Regions from separate parts of the Homo sapiens genome. Here regions 1 and 3 are each linked to region 2. The links come from fine-mapping of genetic effects on gene expression. A gene starts in region 2. Each other region holds a variant in brackets. All regions are shown on one strand. Distances are from middle to middle. Region 1 has its middle 210 kb from the start of LINC01807. Region 2 holds the start of DNER (delta/notch like EGF repeat containing). Region 3 has its middle 35 kb from the start of DNER.

The links. PIP is the estimated chance that this variant, and not a neighbour inherited with it, causes the effect. A credible set is the group of variants that fine-mapping cannot tell apart.
Region 1: its variant is the best candidate, but not a certain one, in a credible set for the expression of DNER in pancreatic islets (PISA, PIP 0.51).
Region 3: its variant is the best candidate, but not a certain one, in a credible set for the expression of DNER in blood mononuclear cells (TOPMed, PIP 0.73).

The regions. Positions count from the first base shown.
Region 1 is chr2:228,823,695-228,828,921 of GRCh38, forward strand. No RefSeq gene overlaps it. Among named protein-coding and RNA genes, the nearest start is that of LINC01807, 210 kb to the left of the region's middle. The variant T/G (reference allele first, on the strand shown) is at 2,272.
Region 2 is chr2:229,711,419-229,716,645 of GRCh38, forward strand. DNER (delta/notch like EGF repeat containing) reads right to left here and starts at 3,137. Exons shown (of 13, transcript NM_139072.4): 1 at 2,730-3,137. The coding sequence starts at 3,005. RefSeq lists silencers at 2,968-3,077, 3,148-3,207 and enhancers at 3,045-3,819, 3,820-4,593.
Region 3 is chr2:229,746,981-229,752,207 of GRCh38, forward strand. No RefSeq gene overlaps it. Among named protein-coding and RNA genes, the nearest start is that of DNER, 35 kb to the left of the region's middle. The variant A/G (reference allele first, on the strand shown) is at 3,054.

The DNA.
Region 1 (5,227 bases), 890 kb before region 2:
CACCAAGGAACAGACCCTTCAGAGAGCGTGGCCCTGTGTACTTGTGCAGTCACATGACCATGAAGCAACCCTGTAGGATGGATATACAAATTATTCCACTGGAAAAAAAGAATATTCTCCAGAATACCAGATGGGCTCTCCTTTCTGAAAAGCTGTTGGAACTGGTGAAGAATTGCAATTTTTAGGTGGCTGTACCCAATGGGAAAAGTCAGGTGTTGGAATCTTCCTCTAATTACCAGCCCCTTGTTGAAAGGGAGGACTGAGAGCACTGCAGTGGGGAGGGGTCTGCATGGGAAGAGAGGGGAAGACAGCCCCCAAGCTGGGAACAGGAGGCTTGGAAAGGCAGAGAGAAGAGAACAATGAAGAGGGTTTGTTGTCATTGTTGTTTCTTTGTTTGTTTGTTCGTTTGTTTGAGACAGAGTTTTGCTCTGTCACCCAGGCTGGAGTGCAGCAGCACGATCTCCACTCACTGCAACCACCGCCTCCCAGGTTCAAGCAATTCTCCTGCCTCAGCCTTCCAAGTAGCGGAAATTACAGAAGAGTGCCACCATGCCTGGCTAATTTTTGTATTTTTTAGTAGAGTCGGGTTTTCACCATGTTGGCCAGGCTGTTCTTGAACTCCTGACCTCGTGATCTGCCTGCCTCAGCCTCCCAAACTACTGGGATTACAGACATGAGCCACCATGCGCAGCCTGTCATTGTTGTTTCTTTCAAGAATATAAGAAAGCTGATAATTGGGAGAAAGTTTACTATGCACAAAGGATGAACTTCCCTTTTAGCATGTTTTTTTCCAAAAGCCTTAAAATTTGCAGTTCTACAATTATAGGTATTATACCATGTTGAAGTCTCAATGAATATGATTTTGTACCAAGAGAGGTCCATGTAGAGCCCTCGGTTTCATGAGTTGCACAATAAAACTGCTATTGGTTAAATTCCTAATTCATAAACATAAATGTAACTGCCTTAATAAGTATTCACTGGATAGACTTAGAAATACAATTACAGTTTAATTTTCATTAAGTCAATGATTCACTTACAAAGAGAGAATTCTGAGAACATTTTAAATCACAGAATTCTCAAGAATGCCATTCAGAGCTTTATTTTTGATGCTGATGAAACCAGTGGGATAAGTAGACCCCTTCTGCTCTTACTGATATGTCTTAAATTAGGCAACAAAATAATAGCCAACAAATAAGAAGTATTGTCAAGTTGAAATAGTTTTACCAGCATCTTAATATATTAACAGCTCTCTGGTGGTGCTACTGAATCAAAGACAAATTTTAGACAGTCTAGAGAAAAAGGCAAAAGCATATTCTTTAGGAAGTTGTCTACAAATAAGGTTCTCTGAACTGGGAGCAGCGAGTTTGGGCTTTTAGTCCCTGACAACTCCTTGGAAGAGAGCAGAGCTAAGCCTTGACTTGATGGACTCTTATGAAAGCGGAGAAGCCAGACATGAATCCATACCGAAAGGAAGACCGCCTGACCTTCACACAAAGCAGCCCAGCTTTATAAATGTCAAGAAAGGACTGAGAGCTAGCCTATCCATGGCTTCACCTTTGTTGCTGAAATGGACTATTTACAAGGAAGAGGGCAACAGATAGAAGAATATCAATAATCTCAGAAATTCTCCAATTCTTTCCTCTATCAAATTGCATTCACTAAATTGCACTTTGGCTTTATGACCCTGGTTTACATTGAGAACCAATAAAAATGACCCTTCGTGCACTCTAAGAAAATAGTTGAAAACAATACTGTTGAGAACAGTCATGTCTCTGACATAATATCCTTGGGAAAAATGTTCCTTTGTCATATTCTGAATAACAGGTAGGTTAGGGGGCTCCTACTTCTCCTTCTGATGACATTCAAGAGAGAAGGACATCCCTTTCCTATCAGAATTTTTCCTTTAGTGGAGTTAACATTTCCTATAGGCCTGAGGCAAGAATTCAGAGACCAGCTTCTTCCTCTAGGCTTCCTCTCACATAGAATAGGGACATGGTAGCCATTCTCTGCCAGTGTCAGGTGCCCTGATAGAAAGTGCCCAGCAAGCAATATCACATTGTACCACACCACTAGCCCCAAACTGCTCAGCATTTTTTTTTTTTTTTTTTTTTTTTTTTGAGACAGAGTCTCTCTCTGTCACCCAGGCTGGAGTGCAGGGGCGCGATCTTGGGTCACTGCAAGCTCCGCCTCCCGGGTTCACGCCGCCATTCTCCTGCCGCAGCCTCCCGAGTAACTGGGACTACAGGCGCCCGCCACCACACCCGGCTAATT[T/G]TTTTGTATTTTTAGTAGAGACGGGGTTTCACCGTGTTCGTCAGGATGGTCTTGATCCCCTGACCTTGTGATCTGCCCACCTCCGCCTCCTAAAGTGCTGTGATTACAGGCGTGAGCCTGCTCAGCATCTTTATACATGAAACATATTTTTAAAAGGTGACTATTAAAGGCAGCTTTGAAGAGGAAATTAAGACACAAATGGCAATGAGCATCTAATAAATAAGAGGGGAAAAAATGTTCCATCAACTTAAAGATGGATGTGTGTGAAAGTGCATTAATGGGTTAATTGTGTGTGTGTGGTGCGTATGTGTGCACACACATATGATAGCATACGTATATATTAAATGGTTATATAGGTATTGTGTATTTATATATGATTGTATGTGTATATACATTATTAAATACGATTATATATGTATATATGTATTTATATAATTTCATAGGCATATGTGTGAGTGTATACTTCCTGTGGGTCTTTAAAAAATGAAATCACAAGGAGTTCATCATCCTATTTCTGTACTGGGCTACTTCTTTGACTTACCAACCAATTTGTAAAAATGTAGCCCTGATCCCTAGTATGTGCCCAGAGAGCCCTGTATCTCACCATGAGCTTTGGAACTTGTCTGACCAGGGCCATGGGAAACTTGATATTTAACACTGCTGCTAACTCTTGGCTCCTGCAGCAGAGTATGTTACTGGGATGGCAGTACAAGTAAAAATGGTATGGCAGTGCGGGTCATGGTGCCCACGTACGCTGCTTGGAACAGGCTTTCACGAACCCTCAGGATGAGGATTCATAGCCTACTATCACTTCAAGTCCAAGATGGAAAGTCCTTTTGGTGTCTTCCACGTCATGGTTCATGGACAGTTAGTGTCAGCATCACTGAGGAATGTGTTAGAAAATCAGTCTCAGGACCCAACTCTGTCCTATTAAAACAAAATCTTGCAATGAGACTGAGGAAACCATGATCTGACAAGCTGTGCAGGTGATGCACACTGAAATTTGGGAATCAAAGAGGCCTCAGAAGTGGGTAACTGATGTGTTATTAGAAGGTTACTCAGTCTTCTGATTTAGAGCAGGTGGTCAGGAAATATTCAGTCTCCAAGAGAATGAAAGTAGGGGGCTGACTTACCATTGTAGACTTTTGGGAATTAATAAATATGTATATCTGAAAAAGAGAGACACTTTGTCTAAGTGAATATAGTATTAAGATTCTGTAATTGCCAGAGCATTTCAGGAAGCAACCTTCTGCCTGAGGCAGGACTGTTAGAATGAAGTCATCTTAGTATGGTTATAATGCCTGCCAGATGCATTTTAAAACACAACTGGTTTGACTGGTGTCTAAAACAGGCTGATAAGGAGTTCAGTGCCTGTGAGTCTAAAAAGGCCAACCGTAGAGTTAAAAAACATTCAAAAGCCTCAATCACTTCATTTTGAGACCATATTTTACCTGTGTTACAGTTTCCCAAAATTAAACAGCTTTGTATCATAAACAGCTGAGCAGTCGTCCCGAAATTGTTAGGAATGACTGCCAAAAAGAACTTCCTGTTATGTTTTTCATTATTGTGGCTATTGATCATTTATGAGTAACAGCAAAAAATGAGGGATTTTTCTAAACATTGAGATCTTCCCTTTGGGATCAAAATGCAAATAAGTCAGATGAGGTTCAGACTGGAAGAGGGAGAGGGAAGGAGAAAGTTATTCATGTGAAGCAACCAACTGCATGTTGTAGCGCCTCTAAAGCCTTTGGTCCGTTACTTGTGTTTTCTTTAATTCTAGTTTGATAATGTCTTTGGATGCCTAAGCTCCCCTCCTGTTTTTATCCTATCAACCTTACATCTCAGTTCAAAATTATTAGGCATTTTCCACTGCTATTCAGTGTGATGATCAAAACAAATTGCCAATCCTTTTTCCCTGGTAAAGAGTCCGAGGTACTGACAGTTCAGATAAGCGATGTGTTTCTACAGCAGTCAGAAGTGTACAAAAGTGTTCATCTTGGAGCCCTTAGCTTCTTTGCTCACCATCTCCATTCTTACACCACAACACATTCTGCACATAAAATACTCACATTAATTCAATCATGAAAAGACAAAGTTTACACACTGTCATAGCTCCAGCTGCTATGACAAAAATGCCATAGACTTGGTGGCTTACACAACAAACTATTTCTGAATGTTCCAGAGCCTAGAGCTTTAGTCTCTTAGAAGTAGCTTTTTAGTGCAAAAAAAAAAAACAAGAAACTTCTGGACAAACCAGGATCCACTTTAGGCTCAGGTCACCTCATTTCCAACTCCTTGAACCACTTCAATTGTTAAAGAAAAGTTATTCCGACACTTGCTAAAATGGTAAGGAAAACTTCATTCAAGACTTTATTCAGGACTATTGCAATAGGTGTCAAGACTGTAGCAAGCAACCGGGGAGAGATGGGGCTCCACTTCAAATACAAGAAAAAGTGGAAATCTCTAGCCAAGGAGCAGGTGGGATGGGGATGGATGTTGGCAGAGGGAAAATTACTAACAGGAGACATCAAGGACAGGGGGCATTTTTGTTGGACTGACCACACAGGATTCTTGCTAAGAGCAGGCCAGGGTGATCAGAGATCAAGGGCGTGAGGGCTCTTGCTAAACTGACCTAGCAGGATTCTTGCTAATACTGGATTCTGCCAGGAGGGAAGGCCAAGGCCTAGTTGAGCACAGGGTTCAAAGAAGCCTGACTAGTTTGGTCAGGGAGAGTCTTTGTCACTATGTACCATAAAAACATGCTGACCGTGTCATAACACTCTGGAAGCAGACAGCATCTATGACTGCCCTCCATAAATGACTGGGTCCCATTCCACCATGAGTTTTATTATCAAATCTTGCCCTTAAGGTCTTGTTCATGTCCTCTAGCTCAGCCTACTCAGCAGGGATATAGGAAGATTTTAAAACACAGACTCCTTCAAAGCAAAGATATGAA
Region 2 (5,227 bases):
CGACCTACAATTCCCAAATCCTAGGAGTTTCCATGACTCAGGTGACAAAAGAAGCATGTCCTAGACCCCATTGACTTACGCAAACTCAATCAGCCAACCACAGAAAAGCTAAAGACATCCTTTTTTAAAAAAGCCTAAAGACAGCCATTTTAATCCTAATTCGTAGTTTATGATTTTCTCAAAATTTCCCCACACACAGAAAGAAACTTCAAGGTTAGGTTCTAATGTTACCATTGCTAACACTATTGTCTTTGGAGAAGGAGGAGTGACGCTCTGTTAAAAGATCCTCTTTACATCCAGGTAAAATTCCATTTCCAATTTATCCAGTGAGCACAAGGTTCTATTTCAGCAACCACATAGTCTGCAGTGGCTAAGATCCAATTTCCTTATCTGTAATTGAGTATGTGTAGTTTCTCTCTCCCTCTCTCCCCTCCCCTCCCCACCACCCCAGGTTTAACTTCTCTTCTGAAATTGTCTTTTGTGTTCTTTGCTGTTCCCATGAAAAATGAGTCTCAAGTCTTACTGCGAGATCATGAACGATTAAATTAAAATCATCAGGAATCCATTTTTATGGATTGTAAGGCCCTGAATCATCTCAGTAAGTTTTTCTGGGTAACCAAGTCCAATCAAGTTCCAAGTTCACTAAGCTTTCCTATGAGGATTACAGTAACTTCACCGCTCTCTCCAACTCACACACCAGGGCATGCAGTATTGCTTCTGCTCAGGTGGATGGTGTTCACACAGCTAAGCCTACCTCCAATGGGAGCTACAAAAGAAATCTGAATCTGTTTTGATCCAGTTGGTCCTGCAATGTTATGTATTAGTTCCTGACTCTTCGGAATGAATTATATTATACATCAAGTCACTACTTAGGACAAATCAAAATATTTATGTTTCGCTGTTAGTCATCTTTAGGTGGCACTAAAGAGCTCTTTTTCTTGAAGATGTCTTATATCTGTTTTTAGAGTCACCAAAAACCATCTCAGAGTTGTGTTAAATTCCCAGTGAGTCTTTCTTCTCATGTAAATCGATGGGCACTCTAACCTACCTTCTCCCATCCATTCCCACTAAACCCTAGGTCCAAATCAACTATTTCTTTGAAGGATAAAATTCAGACGTGTGAATATAACAGCAGTTTGATGGACACACTCAGACAATTCATTTCTTCAGGAAAAGTCATATAAATCATCAATCCACAGGGAAAATTAGCGTGAGTGCATTCCTTGGTTTTTGATTTGCAGTTATTTTGACTTTTGCAAAAGCAAGATTTTGTTCTAATGGTTAGAATGGCTCCAACAGGCATTTCCCCCAAGAAGCTATCATGTCCCAAATCTACTCCTGAGGCTCACATCACACAAATTCTTCCTCCTCCTCATCACCTCCCTTCAAGTAACTAAAGCTTATTGTAACCAGTAAACAAAGAGGAAGAGCACAGTGTTGAAAAGATAGATTCAGTTTGCTAATTTGCTATTAAATGAAATAAAAAGATTCTAGATAAATGCAAAAAAATCTGGCTGTCAAGGTCAAGTTTCTCAATCCCATTTACCTCTAAAAAATGTAAAACCTGTCATAATGAAAGGGCAGCCTTTTTCCCCATTGAAAGAACCTATTTGAGCATTCTCAAAGTAACTCTCCAATCATTGTTATCAAATTTATATGAAACAAACTCCTCCACCCTAAATGTAAGGAAGATAGTATCTGATCCCAAATATCGTCCATATTCATGTGGTTTAATGTAATCATTTCAGATAACTTCATTATTTGCCCTACCCTGCAATACAGGTTTGGGGATTTTCTACCCGTACACACAGTCCTACCAAATTGCCTACTGGAAATGTTGATGTTAATAGGTTTCACAGAGCTTTAACGGACTTGTAAAAGCCCCAGATATTATTTTCTGCCAAATTCTCCTGAAAACCCCAAATTCACGGGCGGCTGCTGGCTACATCCCATCGTCCCATCCCTCGCACCGCCCCCACGCTTTCTGGCGGCTTCCCGGTGCCCTGCTCACGCCCCGGCTGCCAGCCCCAAGCGTGCGCCCCGTGGAGCGTCCGGCAGGAAGGGCGGCCCTGCCAGCGCCACGTACAATGCCCCCTCGAATGCCTCCGACTGTTCCAACACTGCTCCTAAGCTTAGAGAGGGCTGGTCGCAGGCCGAGGGGAGGCAGCTGCCCTCCTCGTCCTCTGGCTGCTTTGTCACAGCCCTCAAGGGCGTAGGAAGAGAAGGAGAAAGTGCCCCACCACCTGGCACGGGGCCCACCATCACCTGCCTCCCACACCGCACACCCTTTACACACACAGGGTCCAGCCGGACGTGGAGCGTGGACCACCTGGACATTGAACACCTCGCCGGGGACGCTCGGAGCCGGCTCCTCCGCGCTGCCAAGGCGGGCACCGCTCAAGTGGTTCTTGGCTCGGCCCGGCCTGGAGGGGCGCGCCACTCAGTGGCCAACCGGAGCGTCTAGAGCCCCGCGCGAGAAGTGCCGAGCCCCGGAGCGGCACACCCCGAGAGCCCGGCTGGCCCCGCCCGGGAACCAGGGCGGGTAAGGGAATCAGGGTCGGCCCGGGGGTCCGCGTCCACGCGGGCCAAGAGACTGGATCCATCTTCTTCCCAAAGTGGGAAAGCCTGTGTCAGGCGTGCCCATTGTCGGGCAGCAGCAGCAGGGCCGGCGGGAAGAGGCTGCTGGTCCCGGACCAGCGCCCCGCACCGCGCCCGCCGCTTCCACTCACCTGGCAGTTGGCGCCGGAGATCCCGGCGGGGCAGGTGCAGCTGTAGCCAGGCTCGCCGGCGGGGGCCGGGTGCTGCGGGTCCGGCTCAGGGCGCGAGGTGCACACACCCCCATTCCGGCAGGGCTGCGCGGCGCACGGCCCGGGCGCAGACAGGGGCGCGGCGGGCACCGGGTTGGCCAGGGAGCTGCCTCGGGGCCCCGCTCCGAGCAGCAGCAGCAGCAGGGCCAGCGCGGGCAGCAGCTGCGCACCGGGCGCCTGGGCGCGGCGGGGCTGCATGGCCGGCCGGGAGGGCGCGGGAGCCGGAGCCAGGACGCAGTGACGGCGGCGGCGGTGGCAGTGGCGACGAGAGCTGCGAGAGCGACGGTGGCGGCTAGGGCTGCTCCGCCGGGCCGGGCGCCTCCTGCAGCTGCGGGATCCGCGGTTCCCCGGGCAACGGCGGGCGGGGCCTGCGGGGCGGGGCGGGGCGGGGCGAGCGGGGGGCGGGGCGCCTGGCGGCCCCGGCTCTGGAGCATCGGGGAGTGGGGCCTCTTTCCCCGCAGGGAGTTGGGATGGGGGTTGCAGGAAGACGATGCGGGACCCCATCCCCCAGGAGTGGGTCGAAGTCACGGGTGTGTCCAGAAGCAGCCCTGGTACAGGGAGCCAGGCGACGCTGGGGCAGGAAAGGGGCTGGAGAGGTCCACGAGTGAGGGAAGCGGGGCTTTGAGGGGCTTCCAGAGCCGGGAGCACCGAGTGCGCCCCAAGGCCCGGGCAGGGCAGGGCGCGGGAGGCGGCAGGGCGCCTCAAGGGAGGGGCGGCGCGCTCGCAGCAGCCACCTTTGGCCTCTTGGCGCAGAATCTGCGAGACCGCCGCGGGGCCCGGCCTTGCCTCATCCCCCGGGACTGCTCCCCTTCCCACAGCGCTTCTCCCGGCACCCCAAGCCCTCCCGCCCGGCCACGGAACCCTGCGCCCGACGCTTGCTCAGCAGCCGGGTTCGCCTGGAAGTGACCTCGCCTCCGCCAGGCGGACCCGGGGCCCTTGTCCTTGGTGCTGACCCAGCTGTCTCATTCTCGCCGGCCCTTTCCAGAGCGCGGGGCCTTGCCGCACCACTAAGGAACGTCTGGCCGCGCCGTGTGAGGCCGGGAAGAGGCCTTGGTGTAAGGCTGTCCACCCCTGTCGTTGAACCTAGGGGGAAACTGAGGCCCAGAAAGTCTGGATTCGAATCCAGTGGGTCAATTGACTCCCAGCCCAGAACGCCCGAAAGAACAGTTCAAAAGCCCAGGTTGGCAGAGGCGCTGCTAGCGGCAGGAATCGCAACAGGGGACTCTGCATAAAAGGAGCATTCGCTGTGACCTACTTCGGAGGGGATGGGGGGGGCGGGCTCTTCTACACGTCCTGGCTGGGCTGGCTGGTGCTGCGACCGCCAAGGAGGCTGCACTCCGCTGAATAAAGCGCATCCAGCCTTGTCTCCTCCACCTGACCTTTCACAATCTCTATTACCTGTGGGTTCCCAGGTACCTGTTACCTTCTTTTTAAGGTGGCCAAATGAAAAAAGAAAATGTGATTCCCCTGGATTGACAGTCTGGGCCAATTTTTTTTTTAGTAAACACAAAAATAGCTTGTTTTGTTTTTTAAAAAAATTAAAGTAAGGACTCCATGTGAACTTCTGCTGTAGGTGTCACAGACGCCAGGGATTGCTAAAAGTCCTCCAGTGGAAACAGAAGGCAAACTGCACGGCTTCTCCCTGTCCTGTTCAAACGCAGAAGCAAATGTCACACTTTTCTGCTTCAGGAGATACCTAAAATTCATGTGGCCATTGCAGGAAATCACTGAACCCCAGACAGATCTGCAAGCGGAGAATTCAGACCTCCAAGTGGATAGAGTTATTACATTTTTCCTCACACCTGCTGTCTTTCAATCTAAGACCTCTTCCTCTTGAAAATTCTTAATTTTGTGCCACGCCAGCACCCTCTGCTGGTACTAGTGTCGTCATTCAGGTGGTTTCTGTGCCCCTGGAGTTGCGTTCTTTCCTGAAACTAACTTCTCTTACCTTAAATCCTGGACTAGTGGATAGTGCTCTTCATTGCCTTCCATCAAGACACACACACAAATGAAGCAAGATGAAGTGTAAAAAGGTTGTGAGTTAATTAAAATCACATTTCAGTTTATTGTACTTTTGCCTGAGCAACCCCTTTGTTTGTGTATTTCATATTATTTTGAAATATAGGATAATTAAAAGTGGTTTTATTTTCTGGATGCTGGTTACTGCATGTTTCAGATAATTTTCCTTGCTAAAAGTATTCTCTTAGTCTTTAATCTTTAAAATGCATATTATGGCAGAGACAATACAAGATCCTTTCATTTTTTCCAGGCTAAAAAGGAAAACTATAATCTTCCAGCACCTTAGCTTATAGGCAGAGCAACATGATTAATGCTGGGGAAAAAGCATATTGATTTGCATGTCCTGGTCCCAAAACATCCATGTACTAAGTGCCATGAAAGTGTTAACTATTATTACTGTT
Region 3 (5,227 bases), 36 kb after region 2:
TCCCAAGGCACTGGGATTACAGGCATGAGCCACCACGCTCATTCACACGTGTAGTCTCTTAAAAAAAAAAAAATAGTGATGCCAGTAGGGGATCTAATGCGCAGCATGCTGCCTATTGTTAATAATACTGTATTGTATTGTTAAATTGAAATAGATCTTAAGCATCCTCGCCAACCCCACACACAGACAAAAGGAAGTGAGAAACGTTCCTTCATTCCTAGTTTTTTAAGAGCTTTTTTAGTTTTTATCATAAATGGGTGTTGAAGTTTATCAAATGCTTGCTTTGCATCAATTGGTAGGATCATATGATTCTTCTTCTTTGGCCTGTTGATGTGCTGGATTATATTAATTGATTTTTGAAAGTTGAGCCAGCCTTGCATATGTGAAATAAATCCCACTTGTTCACAGTGTATAATTCTTTTTATACATTGTTGAACTCAATTTGTTACTATTTTGTTGAGGATTTTTGTATATATGTTCATGACAAGTATTAACCTACAGTTTTCCTTTCTTGTAATGTCTTTTTCTGGTTTTGCTATTTTGGTATCAGCCAAATGCTGGCCTCAAAGAATGAGTAAGTGTTCCCTCTGCTCCTATTATCTGGAAGAGATTGTGGTGAGTTGGTATAATTTCTTCTGTAAATTTTTGGTAGAATTCACCAGTGAAACCATCTGGGCCTAATTCTTTTTTTGTTGGATGTTTATTCATTATTAATTCAATTTCTTTAACAGATGTAAGTCTATTCAGATCACCTGTTTCTCCTTGTGTGGATTTTGGTAGTTTGTGTCCTTCCAGGAATTGGTCTGTTTTATCCAAATCATAAAATTTGTAGGTAAAAAGTACTTTTAAAAAGCATTATGTCAGAGGAAAAACAGAAAGAACTAACAGCCTGTTGCCCTCAGAATTTCATGAACATTAACACTTACTCAGGGCCTGGGGCCAAATTACCTGGATTTGGATCTTGTTTCTGTCGCCCTGCATGACTTTGGGCAATTAACCAGCTTCTCTACACCTCAACTGCCTCACCTGTGAGATAAGGATAATACTATTTACCTCATAGTATTATTGTGAGAATTAAATGTGATTGTGTATAAAGCATGTAGCACAATTCCTGTCACATAATAAGCCCTCCATGGATGTTGGCCATTATTGCTGATTTCAGTTCACCAGTGTCTTTTGAGCATTCATTATATTCCAGGAGTTATGTGAAGCAATGAAATAAAAAGAAGAGGAAACTGTGAAAGACATGTTTAGTTGCTCACAGACTAAGGTCAAAATAGACATAGACAGATCAGTACAGGCCAGTGCGACAGATGGAAGTCTCATCAGAGTGCACAAGAGCACCTAGGAAAGATGAAATGGCAGGGCAAGCCCATCTGATTCACTTAAAGAAGCGTGGGTGTGGCCGGGCACGGTGGCTCACGCCTGTAATCCCAGCACTTTGGGAGGCCAAAGAGGGCAGATGGCTTGAGCTAATGAGTTCAAGACCAGCCTGGGCAACATGGTGAAACCCCGTCTCTAATAAAAATACAAAAAATTAGCCAGGCGTGGTGGTGCATGCCTGTAATCCCAGCTACTCGGGAGGCTGAGGCAGGAGAATCACTTGAACCCAGGAGACAAAGGCTGCAGTGAGCTGAGGTTGTGCCACTGCACTCTAGCCTGGGCAACACAGCAAGACTCTGTCTCAAAAAAAAAAAAAAAAAAAAAAATAGAAGAAGTTTGGGAGTTTGGGTGTCCAGTCTAGGTAACTACAACCCAGGGACTAGCAGAAAAATGCAGATGAGGTTACCAAACTATTGTTGATTTCGTGAACAGTGACAGAGTGAAACAGATGCCAGAATCCTGGACACACTGGTACCCACAGATTCAACTTCCAGAGGAGGCATCCACCACAGGTAGACAGATGCTAACTCTGGGCTGACGTCTCAGTCTTCATAAAAGAACGCATTGATCCCTGGAAGCCAACACAGGCCTGCCGTGAACAAATCTGGTCTTGGCTTGACTTCATTTCCTTTTAGATGGGGCTCCTAAGAGAATTTCTGCAAAAAGTTTGCCAGGTTCTAGGCCTCTTGTGAGAGCTTTGTAGACGAAATGGAGAAATAGAAGCTGATGTATATAGTGCATTTGGTTGGAGTCCTAGCCAGTTAAATATCCTAATCCCCAGGAGGTGGTGCCGTTGAGGAGGAGACAGTTCTGTGTGTGTCCTGTCCTGTGGTGGCTCCCATTCCCACTGGCATCCCTCTCACATTGACACAATGTGTGAGAGACTTAAAATCAGGAGAGATAATAGATAAATGTGTGTCATGACCAAGTCAGGACCTCAAAAGATTTTGATACATTTGGACAGTGGGCCACATTCAACAACATCTATTTAACATAGACAATGTTAAGTCATGTCAGGCCCCAAAACTCAACAGTACCTAAGTTTTGGGGCCTGACATGACTTGGGGAAAGAATAGGTACAGAAGAAGGCTGGGCGTGGTGGCTCATGGCTGTAATCCCAGCACTTTGGGAGGCCAAGGTGGGAAGATCACCTGAGGTCAGAAGTTCGAGACCAGCCTGACCAACATGGTGAAACCCCATTTCTACTAAAAATACAAAAATTAGCCAGGCATGGTGGTGCACACCTGTAATCCCAGCTGCTTGGGGAGGCTGAGGCAGGAGAATCGCTTGAACCTGGGAGGCAGAGGTTGCAGTGAGCCAAGATCTCGCCACTGCACTCCAGCCTGGGTGAAAGAACGAGACTCCATCTCAAAAAAAAAAAAAAAAAAAAAAAAAAGAAGAAGAAGATAGGTACAGAAGAAAAACACGGGGTACTTCTAACATTAATATTCTAGGTGTCCGTGGGGTAGGTAGCTGGTATAATTTGGATATTTGTCCCCTCTAAATCTCATGTTGAAATGTGATCCCTGGTGTGGGAGGTGGAGCTTGCTGGGAGGTGATTTTGTCATGGAGGCGGGTCCCGCATGAATGGTTCAGCACCAGCCCCTTGGTGACGAGTGAGCTCTGCCTCAGTTAGCTCACATGAGATCTTGTTGTTTACAAGTTTGGAG[A/G]TTCCCCCTTCCCTCTCTCACTTCCTCACTCGCCATGTGAGACTCCTGACCCCACTTCCACCAGCACTGGAAGCTTCCTGAGGCCCTGACCAGGGGGCTGCTTCCTGCCTACCCTGCAGAACCATGAACCAATTAAACTTCTTTTCTTTATACATTACCCAGTCTCAGATTTTTTTTCTTTTTTTCTTTTCTTCTTCTTTTTTTTTTTTTTTTTTTTTTTGAGACTTTGTCACCCAGGCTGGAGTGCAGTGGCATGAACACAGCTGACTGCAGCCTTCACCTCCTGGGCGCAAGTGATCCTCTCACCTCAGCCTCCTGAGTAGCTGGGACTACAAGTGCGTGCCACCACACCTGGCTAATTTTTTTTACTTTTTTGTAGAGATGGGGTTTCAACATGTTGCCCAGGCTGGTCTTGAACTCCCAGGCTCAAGCAATCCTCCTGCCTCAGCCTCCCAAAATGTTGTGATTACAGGCATTAGCCATGCACCCAGCCTCAGGTATTTCTGTATAGCACCATAGGAACTGACTATTACAATAGCATTATGGTGAGGAGGTTGTAGAGGGAATGAAAGGAGAGAGGAAGAGGAGGTGAGGGAGAAATACTGCAAATTGGAAAAATAGTATAAAAATGACTAAAAACAATAAGTGCTAGCAGGTACTGAGTGCTTACTATGAGGACTGTTCTAACCACCCTCTAGTGTGTTTAGATGAATTCATGTTGGTCAAGTATTTCCATCTCAAGAGATAGGGAGTTGGTAGAAACAATATTTCTTCCCTTACCTACAAGGATATCTTCAGAGGCCTTATCAAATGTTTTGCAGAGACGTATGTTTTGTCTAGTCAGTTCCTACCTAAATCAGCTTATTTAAATGATGTCATTTAATCGTGAGGAGTGCATTCTCAGTATTCTCAGCCTTCAGGTGAGGAAAGGTGAGCAAAGTCACTTCCCCAAGGCTGTGCAACTGGTACCCAGCCCTGCCAGGCATGAGCCCACTCATCTGCCTCTGAAGCTTGAGCTCTATGGCCTACCTGCTGCTCTGCCTCCCACAGAGAATAGAAATTTCTCTCTGTGCCTACCACAAATGCTGTCATTATCTTTACTTATTAAGAAGAAAAGTTTACATTGTAAACTTCGAAGATGCCCAGGAATGAGGTCTAAAGTGGATCACACATCCGGGCGTGGTGGCTCACACTTGTAATCCCAGCACTTTGGGAGGCCACGGCAGGTGGATCAGTTGAGGTCAGGAGTTCGAGACCAGCCTGGCCAACATGGTGAAACCCCCTCTCTACTAAAAATACAAAAATTAGCTGGGCTTGGTGGCAGACGCCTGTAGTCCCAGCTACTTGGGAGGCTGAGGCATGAGAATCACTTGAACCCAGGAGGCAGAGGTTGCAGTGAGCTGAGATTGCACCACTGCACTCCAGCCTGGGTGACAGACTCTTTCTCAAAAATAAAATAAAATAAAATAAAATAAAATAAAATAAAATAAAATAAAATGGGTCACAGACAGTTGGAAACATTGAGCTGGGAAAAGTAGATTGAGAGGTGACATCAACCCCAGGCTCAACATTAACTAACGGTATGAAGAGGTGGCCAAGAAAGTGAACACAGTCTCTGACTCTGAGGACGCAGGTTAAGTGTCTATAACCAGAGAGCATCTCACACCGGTATGTGTCAGCCAGACCACACAGGATATCATTCTTTTGGTGTAAGTACTACCATGAGAAGAGGGAACATATAAATCTGTGACAAGATATCAGGTATTTGAGGGAAAGCAAGGAGGAATCTTGGCATCATATCAAAGGGATATGACAGGAAGGCCACTGGGTATTTAGGGAACTGTGTGAGGTGTCCTTAAGAAGAAAAATGTCGGCCGGGCGCGGTGGCTTAGGCCTGTAATCCCAGCACTTTGGGAGGCCAAGGAGGGTGGATCACAAGGTCAGGTGTTTGAGACCAGCCTGACCAACATGGTGAAACCCCGTCTCTACTAAAAATACAAAAATTAGCTGGGCATGGCGGTGAGTGCCTGTAATCCCAGCTACTCAGGAGGCTGAGGCAGGAGAATCGCTTGAACCCGGGAGGTGGAGATTGCCATGAGCCAAGATCATGCCACTGCACTCCAGCCTGGGCAACAGAGCAAGACGTCGTCTCAAAAAGAAAGAAAGAAAGAAAG